Linked DNA regions of Homo sapiens: region 1 is linked to region 2. A link means that fine-mapping ties the variant in region 2 to the expression of a gene that starts in the linked region. Tissue or cell type: thyroid. Region 2 holds a variant in brackets; the other region holds the start of a gene. All regions are shown on one strand. Distances are between the middles of the regions.

Evidence for each region. PIP is the estimated chance that this variant, and not a neighbour inherited with it, causes the effect.
Region 1: it holds the start of ZMYM3, and the variant in region 2 is fine-mapped to the expression of ZMYM3 in thyroid (GTEx, PIP above 0.99).

Annotation. Positions count from the first base shown.
Region 1 is chrX:71,250,605-71,258,783 of GRCh38, forward strand. It overlaps ZMYM3 (zinc finger MYM-type containing 3), which reads right to left and starts at 3,536. Exons shown (of 25, transcript NM_201599.3): 1 at 3,425-3,536; 2 at 1,985-2,670; 3 at 954-997; 4 at 574-640; 5 at 1-122. The coding sequence starts at 2,651. LOC105373247 (a long non-coding RNA gene) reads left to right here and starts at 4,204. Exons shown (of 4, transcript XR_938434.2): 1 at 4,204-4,396. RefSeq lists silencers at 4,032-4,081, 4,102-4,151.
Region 2 is chrX:71,224,908-71,233,062 of GRCh38, forward strand. GJB1 (gap junction protein beta 1) reads left to right here. Exons shown (of 2, transcript NM_000166.6): 2 at 1-609. Among named protein-coding and RNA genes, the nearest start is that of GJB1, 5.8 kb to the left of the region's middle. The variant G/T (reference allele first, on the strand shown) is at 3,273.

The DNA of each region.
Region 1 (8,179 bases), 26 kb after region 2:
GGCCCTTTGTGACACACTTGAGCGTAGGGACATGCGAGGAGAGCGCCGGGGCCGGAATGGCACAAAGTCCTCATCATTGGGGTCATCTACCATGGCATCAGAATCCTCATCTGACACTGGAACTGAGAAAGTGGGGGGATGGACATGAGAAAGGCCACCAAACCAGGTCTCCAACCATCCCCTGACCAACAGTTCAGTCCCTCTCCTGGGATCCCTGTTGTTCCGGCCTTTACACCCTGGCCCTTGTTACATCAGTATCTTAAGACCTTGGTGTCTCTCTCCCTTGGTTACTCTGTAACCTCCCAGGGAGGGAAAGGGAGAGGCTCTAAATGAGAAGATTCGGAGACAGAGATGGCATAGCTGAAACAGGAAACTCGCCATTCTCACTGCTCTTGTTTTCAATTTCCCCCACTGCCCCTGGTTCCCATGCCAACCCATAGCAGAGACAGGCACTTCATGCGCTTCATGGAGCAGGACGGCAGGAGCTAGAAGATCCATGCCCTGCCGCATGCCACTTTCGGACCTTTTCCACACCCAGAACTCCCAGGTCACACTTCCTCAAATCCTACTTACTGCTCTCAGTGGAATCTACAACCTCAGGTTTTGGAGGTTCTGCTCTCCTAACGCGCTCGCTTCTCTTCTGTACCTCGGAAAGATGGGAGGGGAGGAAAACTGACACCCTGGCCAGGCTAACACTAGTACAGGGTTTGGGGGGGGATAGAAGATGGGAGGGGGAAGGGAGAGTGGGGACCCTTGGCCCAGCCCTTAGGAGGAGGGAAGAAAAGGAGGTTGGACTTTCTCCCCAACAAGCAGTAGACACTAGTGCTCCCTCCCTCCTCCTAACTCTCCTTACACACACTCTCTACAGAACAACATCTGGGAGGGAAAATGAAGGGTCTGTCCTTCCCAGAGCTAAGGGGGAACCAGACTCCTTCCAATCCCCTCCCCCTCACCCGTTCAGGCGGCTTCTCACTCGCCTTCGCAGTCAGGCCATCTCCTGCAAAGGAAGCAGAAGGCAGCCTAAATGTTGAGCCTGCCCTCACCACCCTCTCCCCGGCCCAACCCCCGCCTCCATTCCTGGGGAAGAACTTACTCAAAACTGAAAGGGAAAACTCGAGTGCCTGTGGCTTCTTGGGGCCCCTCTCAGGGTTACCTCAGGCTCTGTACTAAGGGTGGGGGGGTGCACGTGCAGCTATTCCATGAAAAAAAAAAAATCTATCCTTCCCACCAGCTTTCTGTCCCAATCCTTGGGGGTTAAGGAAACACAGGTAATATACCTTTCATTAAGAATTTATATTTTACCAATGAAAAACACACACAACCACCCAAAGGTAGCAAAAGGAAAAGGAAGCATCAGTGTATGGGTAGCTTCCCCTGGATTCAGGTGGTTATATAAGCCCTAAGACCCTCGTCACAGCCTGATAGAGGCACACCACTAGGCAGAAGAGGGGAGACACTAGAGCCTCTCAAGTCAAGGTTGTCCCTCCCCTATCAGAGACGCAATCCTAGACCCTGCATTTCTATCGCTCTGCTGAAATCCTTATGCTGTTAGGGGCTCCAGAACCTAGTTACCATTCATCAAACCCAGAAATCCCACTCCCATCTAGAACCAAAAAGCTGTAAAGGTCTTAGAACCAAGAAGCCTGGTGTACTCCCCCAAATCCTGAAGGAAGGACTCTGGCACCAAAAGCCCACTGGGGTAGGAAAAAGGGAACCCTTCCCACCAAATTCACTCCTCCCAACCTACGCTCCCTGAAACCTTACCCCATTCCTCCCCCACAGCCTGTGCCCACCCCTACTTTCCTTAATCTTCCTCTACACACCACCCCACTCCTCCCTCGTAAACCCCAAGTCCTTCCCCACACACATCCCTACACTTATCTCTCCACCCTCCTCCTCCCCACTACTTCCCAAAGCACATAGCCACCCCTCCTTACCACCACCCTCTCCCAGCCCTGATTCTCCAGATAATTAGGCAACCTACCTGGCAAGGAAGGATGTGCAGGGGGGCTAGAGCCCCCAGGTTTGGTCTGAGAACTGTTGATTCCATCCCCCAGAGTCTCTCCCACTGAAGGGCTAGGCGGGGCATTTGGGCTCTGTGGCTGCCCTTGGGGAAGCTCCTCCTCCTGCCCAGGGGAGCCCCTTCTTGCAGTAGCTATGGAGGTGGTCTCCTCCTCTTCAATATGTGGGGACTGCAGTGTTATTGGAGAATCTGGAGCCAAAGGCTCTAGTAGCCCCTCAGGTGAACAGGAATTTGCCCCAGCCCCTGGATCAGGTGGTACCACCTCAGGGGTCTGGCCCCCTGGTCCAGGCTCTAGGGTCTGATCTCCTGCATCCCATGCCAGGGTTCCCTCAGGACCGTGGTCCACCTCCGGGGGAGAGGGGGCTTTATAGAGCAGCCCCCCCAGCCCCAGCAACTCAGTGGCTCCATCCAGGACTCCAGGGTCTTTTTCCAGGCCAGCAGGGGTATCAAGCAGGTCCAGGGCTCCCGAGGATGGAGAAGGGCCAGGGGGGGCCCATCCTCGAGTTGGGGCAGTCTGGGATTCCAGTAGATCCTCTCCAAATTCCATGTCTACTGGTAGGTCTCCAGCCAGGGGCTTCTCTGGCAGGGTCAATGGGTCAAATGGACTGGGGAAATCACTGGGGTCCATGAGTATGGCTGGATATGTACTGCAGATTAGGAGTAGAAGAGGGGGCAGTAGAGGTGGTCTTAGCCTGAATTCCTTCTTATATAGGCTCTGAGACACACCCCATCATCCACTTGGATTTCTCATGAGCAGCCCCCACCACCACAATCTACAAGCATTTCCGAAGGCTTTAGTCCTAATGACCACTCCCCCCAATACAGCGCCCCCAGTGGGGAGAGGCGTTCCCCGCCCTGGCCCCGTGCCCACACTGGCCAGGCAGTCGGTCGTTCTACCCGCCCACCCCCCTACTCGACTGCAACTCCCATTCCCTTCCCCCCTTACCTTTTACCCCCCGCAACTCAGGCTGAACGCCCCCTTAGAGTCTCCTAAGGCCGTCGCCACCAGGAGCCTTTCCCGCCCCCGCGATCTCAGTTTCTATTCCCTCCCCACTCTGCAGGAGCCCCCCAGCTCCCCAGTCTTTACCCACCCTGTCTGGCCCCACCCCCCCTCCCCGCGTTGCTAGGTCCTCCCTCGGCCCTTCCCCCGCCCCCACAAACTGCCCTTCGCAACCCCTTCCCCCCAGTTACCTTTCAGGTCGCCCACTTCCTCAGCCCCGTCCCCCTTTCCCATTGCTCCTCCAGTCCTCCCTTCTCCTGTTGCCCACCCCCAACCTCAGGCATTTACAGGAAGACATTTTGGAGCTACGATCTCTCCTTAGACCCCCCCACCACCGCCTCCCGGCTACTGCAAGATCCCGCTTGCAGGTTCGGTTCGGCTTGAGCAGGCCCGACCCCTACCTGCGGCAGGGTTAGTGCAAAGGCTACAAGCCTAGAACTGCAGACAGCGACGGCCCCGCGCTCCTTCTCTACCTCCCTCCCTAGCAGCCGGGACAGGGGTCGCGGCCCCTTTAAATGGCAGCGCCGCTCGCAGCGCCCAGCGCTCTGCACCAGGCGGGCGGGCGGTGCCAGCAACCAACCCCATTGGCTGGCTCGAGGAGGGGGCTCGCGAGACAGCGCCGGCCCCCGGCGCGAGACTCCCAGTCCAGTGGCCGCCTGGAAATTGCGGAGTGGAATGCAGCCACTAGAGACGGCGCCTGAGCCCCCGCCCGGGGCCCCGTTAGTTGAGAAGGAAAAGATAGCCTCTGGAGCTTTGAAGCCGGCCCCCCGGGAAAGGCGGCGTCCCCTTTCCACCCAAGGGCCGAGTGCGCTCACCCACAAAAAACACAGATCTACGCACCTGCTCCCCTTACCTGGCTCAAGAGTCTGGCCCCCGTCACACCCTGCTCGCCCTACCTCCTGGAGCCCACTCTACCCGTGATCCCCTCCTCTCATTCAAATGGTTCCCGGTCCCCTCCCCCTCCCCGTGTCTCTCTTAGCTTCCCACTCGTGTTCACCCCCTCGGCGTCCGCCCCCCTCAATAGTCCCTACCTACGCCATGCAGCAGGCGCCTGCCAAGATTACCCTCCCCCATCCCCACCTCTCCGGGTCCCGCCCCCTGGGCGACTGTTGGGGTAGTGAGTGACAGCGGAGGACGGGGGGAGGCAGGGACCCAGCCCTCACGTGCCCCTCCTTCCCTTGTCTGCAGCCACGGGGCCCCCAAAACAGTCTGAGAGTCAGAGTTATGGGGTATCTGAAGCTTGATCCCCAGCCACACAGGTCGGGTTAAATGGCTCTGGCTCAGTGGCAACGCCTGTGCAGTAACCGTTACTGCTTGATGACCCCCAAACCAGGTCCTGCAAAGCTACCCCCTACTCTCTCAACAGTCTTAGGGTAAGTTCTGGGATCTTCTCCCTGAGTCTTCCTGCAGGAGCTCCCTGTATTATCTATGGAGTTTTCCTCCCTCACCAGGGCTGATCTCTCTCTCTCTCTCTCTCTCTCTCTCTCTCTCTCTCTCTCTCTCTCTCTCTCTCTCTCTCTCTGTATCTCTCTCTCTCTTTCTCCTCCAGCCCCCTTTCTGTCCTTGTCTGTCTCTCTCTTCTCGCTCTCTCTCTCTCTCTCCCCCTATCTCTTTTTGTCTCCTTCTCTGCCTCTCTGCTTCTCGTGCGCACGAGCACGCAGGCGCGCTACACGCTCCCCCCTCCTGGATGGTCCTTAGCATGTGGGTGTGGCTGAGGTTAGGCTAGAGAAGTGGAGTAGGGGTAGGTGGCACTAGCGTTAAGCCTACTGCCTTTAAAAAATTGTGCCAGCATCCATTCTCAGTCCGCATTATATTAATAGTTAGAGCACTTTACAATCCCCGCTCCCCACTTCCCACCACAGCCCCTAAGGGCTGAGAGCATTTAGTAGCCGAACTACTAGAGGAGGCTCAGGCTGGAAGGAAGTCTCCTTAGGAACAGGAAGGTTTGGTATCCAGTGCCTATTCTAGCCTGCCTCGTTGACTTCTGGCCTCTCCTCCTGGCCACACAAAGCCTCTCCTGCTCTTGTAGTCCTCGGGAGTTTACCCTCCCTTTTCTCATTCCTTTTCCCAGAAACCTTATCCTTGCTAGCTCCCCACATGGCCTTGAGGTTATCTTTGCTCCCTCCTACATACAGAGATAAAAGCCAGAGTTTCTTACTTTTAGATTTCCCAAATCCAGCTTTCTCTTTGTCTTAACCAGCATTCTGTGTACCCATCTCCTACCTCCTGTTTATTTCTATTCCTGGACCTCCCCTTTGCATTTTCTGCTTGTTCCATCTCAGTTGAGCCACCTAGTTTTTTCTGTATTGCCTGCCTTCCTCAACATATACTTGAATCCTTGGCTGCTCTGCTTGTGGAGGTGCCTGGTCACTATCTTTCAAGTTGAGGGGAGCTGATCTAACGGGGTTAAGTGGTGTGTTATTAATTCTAGACGCAGTGTGGTGGCCTAAGAATGGGTTCTGGAGTCAGACCAGATTTCTAATATCAGTTCTGCCTACTTTTTAGCCAGGTGACTTTGGACAAGTGACTTGTCAAGTGAAGGGCCTTAGTTTTCTCCTCTTTAAAACAGATAAGGAAACAATCTAAATGCCCAATAATAGGGGATTTTGGTTATGCAACAGACGTAGTCATTAACAACCACATTTTAAGTCTGGCGCAGTGACTCACGCCTGTAATCCTGGCACTTTGGGATGCCAAGACGGTTGGATCCTTTGAGCCCGGGAGTTCCAAACCAGCCTGAGCAACATGGTGAAACCCCTTCTCTACAAAAAATACAAAAAATTAGCAAGGTGTGCTGGTGTGCACCTGTAGTCCCAGCTACTCAGGAGGCGGAGGTGTGAGGATCACTTGAGCTGGGAGGCAGAAATTGCAGCGAGCTCAGATGGCGCCACTGCACTCCAGCCCGGGGCGACAGACGAGGGCTCTGTCTCAAACCAAACAAAACAAAACCCCACATTAAAAAAACAAAAACAAAAAACAACTAATGGCAGACAGCACAGAGGATTTTTACGGTAGCGAAAATACTCTCATGATACTGTAATAGTGGATACTTGTAAGTATACATTTGTTCAAAGATACAGAATGTAAACACCAAGGGTGAACTAACTCTAATGTAAACCGCAGGCTTTGGTTAGTAATGATGTGTTAATGTAGGTTCATCGATTTTAACAAATTTACCACTCTGATAGGGATGTTGGTAGTCAGGGGAGCCGTGACTGCATGGGGGAAGGAGGTATATGGGACTCTCCGGACCTACCTGTCAGTTTTGCTGTGAAACTAAAATTGCTCTTAAAAAATAAAATCTTTATTTAAAAAAATTAAAACCCATAGAATGTACAACACCAAAAGGAAGCCCTTATGTAAACTATGGCCTTTGGTTGATAATGTGTCACTGTATATTCATCACTGCAAGAAATTTACCACTCTGGACAGGATGTTGATAGGGAGGCTGTGTCTGTGTGTGGAGAGGGGTACAAAGGACTCTTGATACTTTCAGCTCAATTTTGCAGTGATGCCAAAACTGCTCTAAAAAATAAAGTGGGCCTGGTGCAGTAACTCCTGTAATCCCAGCACTTTGGGAGTCAGGAGAATCGCTTGAACCCGGGAGGCGGAGGTTGTGGTAAGCTGAGACTGAGCCACTGCACTCCAGCCTGGGCCACAGAGCGAGACTTCATCTCTCAAATATATATATATATATGTTTTGTTTTGTTTTGTTTTGTTTTTGAGACGGAGTCTTGCTCTGTCGCCCAGGCTGGAGTGCAGTGGCCCAATCTCAGCTCACCGCAAGCTCCACCTCCCGGGTTCACGTCATTCTCCTGCCTCAGGCTCCCGAGTAGCTGGGACTACAGGCGCCCGCCACCACGCCCGGCTAATTTTTTGTATTTTTAGTAGAGATGGGGTTTCACCGTGTTAGCCAGGATGGTCTCAATCTCCTGACCTCGTGATCCACCCGCCTCGGCCTCCCAAAGTGCTGGGATCACAGGCGTGAGCCACCGCGCCTGACCGTAAATAAAATTTTTATTTAAAAAAATTTAGGCCGAGCGCAGAGGCTCACGCCTGTGATCCCAGCACTTTGGGAGGTCGAGGTGGGTGGATTGCTTGAGCTCAGGAGTTGGAGACCAGACTGGGCAACACGGTGAAACCCCATCTCTACCAAAAGCACAAAAAATTATCCAGGCGTAGTGGTGCACGCCTGTGGTCCCAGCTACTCAAGAGGGTAAGGCTGGAGGTTGCAGTAAGCCGAGATTGTGCCACTGTCCCCAGCCTGGGCGATAGAGCAAGACTCTGTCTCAAAAAAATAAATAAATATATAAATAAAAATAATTTTCTGCATTTTGTATTTACTAAACTTTTTTTTTTTTTTTTTGAGACAGAGTCTCACTCTGTCTCCCAGGCTGGAGTGCAGTGGCATGGTCTCGGCTCACTGCAACCTCTGCTTCTCAGGTTCAAGCGATCCTTATGCCTCAGCCTCCCGAGTAGCTGGAACTACAGGCGTGTGCCACCACACCAGCTAATTTTTGTATTTTTTTTAGTACAGATGGGTTCCACCATGTTGGCTATGGTTGGTCTCGAACTCCTGACCTCAAGTGATCCACCCACCTCGGCCTCCCAAAGTGCTGGGATTGCTAAAGGCGTGAGCCACCACTCCCAGCCTTGTATTTTCTAAACTGTTCTACTGAGCACATATTGTTTTTATAATCATGAAAAAATGTTAGCACCTAAAAATAAGGGCTGGCCAGGCACGGTGGGAGGCCGCACTTTGGGAGGCCGAGGCGGATGGATCATTTGAGGTCAGGACTTCAAGACCAGCTTGACCAACGTGGTGAAACCCGTCTCTACTAAAAAATACAAAAATTAGCTGGCGTGGTGGCAGCTCAGGAGTTCGAGACAAGCCTGGGCAACATGGTGAAACCCTGTCTCTACCAAAAATACAAAAAATTATCTGAGGGCAGTGGTGCATGCATGTGGTCCCAGCTACTCGGGAGGGTAAGGCTGGAGGTTGCAGTGAGCCAGGATTGTGCCACTGCCCTCCAGCCTGGGTGATAGAGCAAGACCCTGTCTCAAAAAATATATATATATAAATAAAAATAATTTTCTGCATTTTGTATTTCCTTTTTTTTTTTTTTTGAGATGGAGTCTCGCTCTTGTTGCCCAGG
Region 2 (8,155 bases):
ATACCCTGTTTCTGGAGTCACATCAGTGAGGAGGGATGTGGGTAAGAGGAGCAGAGGGCAGGGGTGCTGTGGACATGTGGGTGGAGAAGGGAGGGTGGCCAGCACTAGTAAAGGAGGAATAGTGCTTGCTGGCCACAAGGAAAAGGAGGAGGTGTCTGGGGTGAGGGAGTTAGGGAGAGAGAAGCAGGCAGATAAGTTGGAGCAGGGGTTGGTCAAGGCCACCTCTGCCTCTAGTCCCCAAGGCCTCTCTCTGCCTGAAATGTTACACATTAAACAGGATTTTACAGTAAATGAAGAGGTGGCTTGTGTGTTTGTCAAGTTCTTTCTCCTGCAACCTCTGACCTCCCCCAGGATGAGCTGGCCTTGGTTTTTTACTGATTAAGAAAGGAACAGGGCAAAAGAAGTAGTTACTTGAGTAGCTGAAGCTGCAAATGAGGAAATCACTGTACTTCTGGGCCGCAGAGCCAGCCCCGGAGCCATTCCTCCCTGTTGCTTTTGTTGTTGTGGTTCTTGTCTTTTTCATTGTCTAATAACAGCTTTATTGGGATTTAGTTTACATACCTCCTTCCTCTGATTTTGAAAAGATTAAAAATGACAACTCCCTCTGAAGAGACAAGAAATGATTGGGAAATTTCTCCTGCCCCAGAGAGTGGCACAATTCCCTGGGTACCTCGGTGAGAGCCCCTCCCCCGCACATCTGGAGACCTATCTCCTTACTCCCTCCAAACTCAGCATCCCCTACAAGCTGATGTCCCACAGTCCACCTGTTGGGTTGCACGATGACCCTGACCCCTTTCAGCTGGACAGAGCCCCTAATTTCATCCTCTTTCCCAGTTTCCTTCTCTCAGGAATCAATGCTTCCCACTCCAGAGATGCCTCCACACAGGTCAAACATTTCATAGCAGCAGTTTCCTCACCAGCATCACCCTCCCCTGTCAGCTGTGGTAGGAAATGCCCCAGGCTGAGACTTGGAAAAGCTGCGCTGGAGTCCTGATGCTGTCACTTAGTAGCGGGGCATTCCCTTCCCCGAACCTCAGCTTCCTTATGAGCAAACGAGAACTGGCCCAGCACATCTCTCAGCTCCCTTCAACACTCTGTGCTTCTGGGATTCCTGAAAGATTTCCCCAAGTAACAGTGCATTATCTTCCCCCAGCCTCACAGGGGTTTCCTTAGAGTCACTGCCCCCACAAATAGCCTCTCAGAGTAAAAGTTTCCCCCATGGCAAGTTTGCCTCCTCAGCTTCCTTACCTCCGAACAGGAGAAATTATTTGCCACTCCCTCTCAGAGTATGTGGACTCCATGTAGGAAGTGCTGGATATCAGAAAGGGAGAGAAAATCAGACACAATCTCATGTGAATTGTTCTCCCTTGAGACAGTTTTTCCTCTTTGGAGAGAAAGCATGGAAGTTTTCTTTATTTGAGATTTCTCCTTTAGAAAAAAAAAAAAGGAAGACTGGATGTGGTGGCTCATGCCTGTAGTCCCAGCACTTTGGAAGGCCAAGGGGAGAGAATCACTTGAGCCCATGAGTTTGAGACCAGTCTGAGCAACATAGAGAGACCCCATCTCTACAAAAAAAATAAAATAAAACAATTAGTCAGGTGTGGTGGCATGTGCCTGTAGTCCCAAGCTATTTCGGATGCTGAGGTGGGAGGATAACTCGAGCCCAGGAGGAGGTTGAGGCTGCAGTCAGCTGTGATCACGCCACTGCACTCCAGCCCGGGCCAGAGAGTGAGACCTTGTCAAGAAAGAAACAAAGAAAGAAAAGGAAGGAAGGAAGGAAGGGAGGGAGGGAGAGAGGGAGGGAGGGAGGGAAGGAAATGAGACCTTTAGAGGCCGAAGCAAGAGGATTGCATGAGGCCAGGAGTTCAAGACTAGCCTGGACAGCATAGCAAGATCCTATCTCTATTTTTTTTTTTTTTGAGACGGAGTCTCGCTCTGTCACCCAGGCTGGAGTACAGTGGCGCGATCTCGGCTCACTGCAAGCTCCACCTCCCGGGTTCACGCTGTTCTCCTGCCTCAGCCTCCCGAGTAGCTGGGACAATAGGCGCCCGCCACCACGCCCGGCTAATTTTTTTTTGTATTTTTAGTAGAGACGGGGTTTCACTGTGTTAGCCAGGATGGTCTCAATCTCCTGACCTCGTGATCTGCCCGCCTCGGCCTCCCAAAGAGCTGGGATTACAGGTGTGAGCAACCGCGCCCGGCCTCCCATCTCTATTTTTAAAAAATTGAAAGAAAGAAAGGAGAGAGTAAGTATTCCTTTCCACCACACTTAGTAATCCCTGAGAGAGAGCTTCCTCTCCCTTAAAAGAGGAACATTCCTTTCCTACAAGAAATTTCCTTTCCCCTTAGAAACTGACATTATGTTCCATCAGAGGAGAGGTCCCCACCCCCTCACGGTGAGAGAGATTCCTTTTCTTATCGAAATCCATCCTTTTCACCCACAACAATACAACAAACACATCCCCTCTCCATACAACATGCCATCAGGAGAAAGATTTTCTTTTTAAAATTCCATCCTGGTCCTGGTCGGAAGCAGGGAACCTCATGCCCTCTCCACATTGAGAAATGCTAACCCCCACCATCACATCAGAAATGTAGTTTCTCTTCAAAGATTCTACCAATCCCCCTTGGAAAGAGGCTCCAACTCTATATCAAGGCTTTCCTCTCCAGGGGGCAGTGGTGGGACAATAAAGCTATCAGGCTGGGTGTTACAGCCCAAGTGGGGGACACAGGATTCTTGGGTCCCATGAACCAGGTAGGAACAGGCCCAAGGAACCTTGAGGGGAGCTGGTGGACACAATGTCTCAGGGAGGTAGGAGGCAGAGTTAGACTGACTCCAAGACTGACTTTTCAAATCAGGCTCTGTCACAAGAGTATAAGAGAGAGACACAGAGGCAAATGAGGCATGCTCTCTGCCACGCAGTAGAAATTCAATGTGCTGAGTGACCTGGGTTATGAAGAGGACACTGGAATTAGGAGACCTCGTTCTCCACTGATGAGCTCTGTCCCCTTGGACACGTGATATTTACCCTCTCCAGGTCTGTTTCCTCATCTCCAATAGAGAGTTAATAATAACCTCTCTACCTCTTTCACAGAACTTTTTTGAGAATCAGACAAGATGTGTTCAAAAGCTGGTTATGAACTAACGGTAAAGTAAGGTAAGATAGTATCATAAGCACTGAGACCATGGCCTTACGACATGCTAGAATTCTCAATGAGCCAGAAAGGAGTGAGGCTGGTTCAGGTAGGCTGAAGCTAGTTAAAACAATTTG[G/T]CAATAATAGTGTTGGCTCCCCCAGGGAGTGGACACCAGTCCAAACAGCAAAGTCCAAGAGAGGTTGCAAACCTGAGCATGATTCATTTAAGGGTCAATATTCAAGGGGTCTGATCAGGGGGCAGAAAAGGCATAGTAACAGGAAGCTCTTGCATGCTGTATCTCATGGAACTGGTCCTTTTAGGAATGTCTATGATCTTTTAGAGGTGTCTATGCACAGAGATGCCAGGAGCTGGGGGGCAAAGGAACAGAGGCAGATGAACTAGGAGAGTAATCAAGGCCTCCAGCCAGCTGAGTTGGGGTTTGAAAGCAAGCTGTGGTATCCATAGAGAATTGGCATGGCAACCACAAACTGGTTCAGATGTTCAATCAGATAGCCTGGGTGCACACAGTGGGGGCTAGAGGGGAATGCTTGCTCCATTTACTGATTCCAAAGTACTTAAATGCCAGACCTGGCCTATGGTGCAGAAGGGGCTACACAATCGTACCAAGCTAAGCTCCTGTTGATTCCTGGAGTAGGCCAGGGAGAATGTACAGGGTCAAATGGAAAATGGATTGGGACATTCCAGCAAGGGGCAAATAAAACAGACAAAAAATACCCTACAGATATGACAGGAATTGGCTGGGCACAGTGGCTGTTGCCTGTAATCCCAGCAATTTGGGAAGCCAAAGCAGGCAGATCACTTGAAGCCAGGAGTTCGAGACCATCCTGGCCAACATGGTGAAACACTGTCTCTACTAAAAATACAAAAATTAGCCAGGCGTGGTGGCACATGCCCATAGTCCCAGCTACTCAGGAGGCTGAGGTGGGAGAATTGCTTGAATCCGGGAGGTGGAGGTTGCAGTGAGCCGAGATCGCGCCACTGCACTCCAGCCTGAGTGACAGAGTGAGTGAGACTCCATCACAAAAAAAAAAAAAAAAAAAAAAAAAAGCCAGGCACGGTGGCTCACGCCTGTAATCCCAGCACTTTGGGAGGCCGAGGCAGGTGGATCACTTGAGGTCAGGAGTTTGAGACCAGCCTGGCCAACATGGTGAAACCCCGTCTCTACCAAAAATACAAAAATTAGCCCCGTGTGGTGGCGCACGCCTGTAATCTCAGCTACTTGGGAGGCTGAGGCATAAGAATCGCTTGAACCTGGGAGGCAGAGGTTGCAATGAGCCGAGATCATGCCACTGCACTCCAGCCTGGGTGACAGAGCGACTCTGTCTCAAAAAAAAAAAAAAGGTATGACGGGGGTGATACCTTCAAACTTGTGTGTTTGGAAGGTCAGCCAGCAGCTGCATGGAGACTGGATTGGGGATTGAAGACTGAGACAGATTGACCAGGTACTGCCAGGTGCAGTGGCACACCTGTGGTCCCACCTACTTGGGAGGCTGAGGTGGAAGGATTCCTTGAACCCAAGACTTTGAGACCAGTCTGGTCAACATAGTGAGACCCTGTCTCTAAAAAAAAAGACCAGTTATGGAGCTGTTGCAATAGCCCAAGTGGCGCCTGTAGGACTAGGACAGTGGCAGAGGAATATGAAGAGGAGACAGGTGTGAGAGACATTTTGGATGTAGAACCTACAACAGGACTTCATGTCTGAGTTGTGGGGTGTGGAAGAGCCAAAGGTAATTTGAGGTTTCCTTTCCCTCCTTTGACTGGAAAGCTCCTAATCATTCAAAACTCATCTCAAACGTCGTTTCCTCTGTGAAGCCATCAACTCTTCTTTCCCCGCTGATCAAGTCCCTTGGAGAGACTCTCCAATTCAGACCTCCACTCTGAATTCCCACAATATGACTGTGGTGTATGTGATAAGAGCGCTTATCACATTATATGGTGCCAGGTGCGGTGACTCACACTTGTAATCCTAGCTGCTCAAGAAGATGAGGTGGGAGGATTGCTTGGAGACCAGCCTGGACTACACAGTGAGACCCCATCTCTAAAAAATACCACCACCACCACCACCACCACACACACACAAAAAAGAAAAGCACACAGGCCAGGCACAGTGGCTCACGCCTGTAATCCCAGCACTTTGGGAGGCTGAAGCAGGCGGATCTGTTGAGGCCAGGAGTTCAAGACCAGCCTGGTCAATATGGCAAAACCCTGTCTCTATTAAAAATACAAAAATCAGGCAGGCGTGGTGGTGGGCGCCTGTAGTCCCACCTACTCAGGAGGCTGAGGCAGGAGAATCAGTTGAACCTGGGAGGCAGAGGCTGCAGTAAGCCGAGATCGTGCCACTGTACTCCAGCCTGGGTGACAGAGTGAGACTCTGAAAAAAAGGAAGGAAGGAAGGAAGGAGGGAGGGAGGGAGGGAGGGAGGAAGGAAAGAAAGATTAGCTCATAAAATCTGTCTTAAAAAAAGAAAGAGGCCAGGTGCGGTGGCTCACGTCTGTAATCCCAGCACTTTGGGAGGCCTAGGCAGGTGGATCTCTTGAGGCCAGGAATTGGAGACCAGCCTGGCCAACATGGCGAAACCCTGTCTCTATTAAAAATAGAAAAATCAGCTGGGCCTGGTGGCACTCGCCTGTCATCCCAGCTACTTGGGAGGCTGAAGCAGGAGAATTGCTTGAACCCAGGAGGGGGAGGTTGCAGTGAACTGAGATCATGCTATTGTGCTCCAGCCTGGCTGACAGAGCAAGACTCCATCAGAAAGAAAGAAAGAAAGAAAGAGAGGAAGGAAGGAAGGAAGGAAGGAAGGAAGGAAGGAAGGAAGGAAGGAAGGAGAAGGGGAAGGGGAAGGGGAAGGAAGAGGGGGAAGGGGGAAGGGGGGAAGGGAGGGAGGAAAAGAAAGAAACTATTGTGTGGTAATCACTTGCATAAGCTTAACACATAGTAGGTGCTTAGTAGCCTGTGGGATTCAGGGCAGCGGGGAGGAAGACATATGCATGTGCAAAGATTCAGAGTCGTGAGAGAGTAGAATGTGTTCACTGTGACTAGAGCAGAAAATGCATGGGATGGGGAGTGGGGTGGTTGCAGTAGGAGGTGAGACTGGCAAAGCAGGTCGGGGCTGGTCAGTGAAAAGTCTCATAGAAATGCATGCAGGTTTGCACAGGAGTCTGGACTCCAGTATCACGTGTAGAAGCCCTTCTGACATAAAAGTTAAGCCCCTACTAGACTAACAGGCAATTCTGTACTCATGATCATGGATGGACTGTAGAGGTCTTCAGGAGATCCAGATCAGGGCAGACCTTTGCACAAACAGATGTGTTAAAGTTGACAGTGAACTATGGAAGAAAGACCAGAATTATTTGAAAGTGGACTTCAAGGAGAAAGCGTAATTTACACAGGATGGTGACCAACTGTTCTCCATTTTTTTCACCACAACTGAAGCCCCTGTGAAAAGTTAGTGTCACATAGTGATTAAGACCAATGTTGGCCAGGTGCAGTGGCTCACGCCTGTAATCCCAGCACTTTGGGAGGCTGAGGTGGGCAGATCGCCTGAGGTCGGGAGTTCGAGACCAGCCTGACCAACATGGAGAAACTCTGTCTCTGCTAAAAATACAAAATTAGCCAGGCGTGGTGGCGCATGCCTGTAATCCCAGCTACTCAGGAAGGCTGAGGCAGGAGAATAGCTTGAGCCCGGGAGGCGGAAGTTGCAGTGAGGCGAGATCGCACCATTGCATTCTAGCCTGGGTAACAAGAGTGAAACTGTCTCCAAAAAAAAAAAAAAGCATTGTTTACTTCCTACTTTTGTGAGTTTGACCATGTTACTTGGCCACTCTAGGCCTTAGTTTCCTCATCTATAAAGCATGAGTACCTGTGTCACAGGGCTGTAGTGAGGATTAAATGTGTCCATTATATATAAAGCACTTCAAACAAGGCCTGGTCGATAGTAAGCCCTACACAAGGGTGTGCTGTTATTATTTCATCTCACCATCTTCGCTGTTTCTCCAGCTATTCACCAATTCTCTCAAACACTGAGTTAAACTCTGTCTCACCTAATTAACATGCTTGCTTTTTTTTTTTTTTAGACAGGGTCTCACTCTGTTGCCCAGGCTGTAATGCAGTGGTGCCATCATAGCTCACTGCAACCCCAAACTCCTAGCTCCAGTGATCCTCCCTCCTCAGCCTCCCAAAGGGCTGGGATTACAGGCGTGAGCCACTGTGCCTGGCTTAACATGTTTTCTTGACTGTCTAACTGTCCATAGTCATGTGCGTGTGCTTAAGCAAGCAAGTCTGTATGTTTGCATGCATATGATATATCATTGTATTGATACATATGACCACATTAACATGTATGTGGGAGGATGGCTGTGAGGGGAGTGCCTTTTTTTTTTTTTTGAGATGGAGTCTTGCTCTGTCGCTCAGGCTGGAGTGCAATGGCGCAATCTTGGCTCACTGCAACCTCCGCCTCCTGGTTTCAAGGGATTCTCCTGCCTCAACCTCCTGAGTAGCTGGGATTACAGGCGTGTCCCACCAACCTGGCTAATTTTTGTATTTTTTTTGTAGAGATGGGGTTTCACCATGTTGGCCAGGCTGGTCTCCAACTCCTGACCTCAGGTAATCCGCCTGCCTTGGCCTCCCAAAGTGCTGGGATTACAGGCGTGATCCACTGCGCTCTGCCAAGTGCCTTAACTCTTAATGTAGTTTTAATGAAAAGGATGTGTCCCAATCATAATATGGTCTGCAACTTTATTACCAGACTTAGAAATGACTTAGGTGGGCCAGGCGCACCATACTATGGAGCACCTAATATGTGCCAGATTTGGTGCTACATTAAGCACTGACATGTATAATCTCAGTACTGGCAAGGTAGCTATTATTATCCCCATACTTGTAGATGAGGAAATGGAGACTCAGAGAAGTTAAGTAATATGTCCAAAGGTTGCACTGCAGAGCTAGAATTAAAACCTAGTCCCATTCTAATCCAAAACCTGCACTGTTTCCTCTATTCCA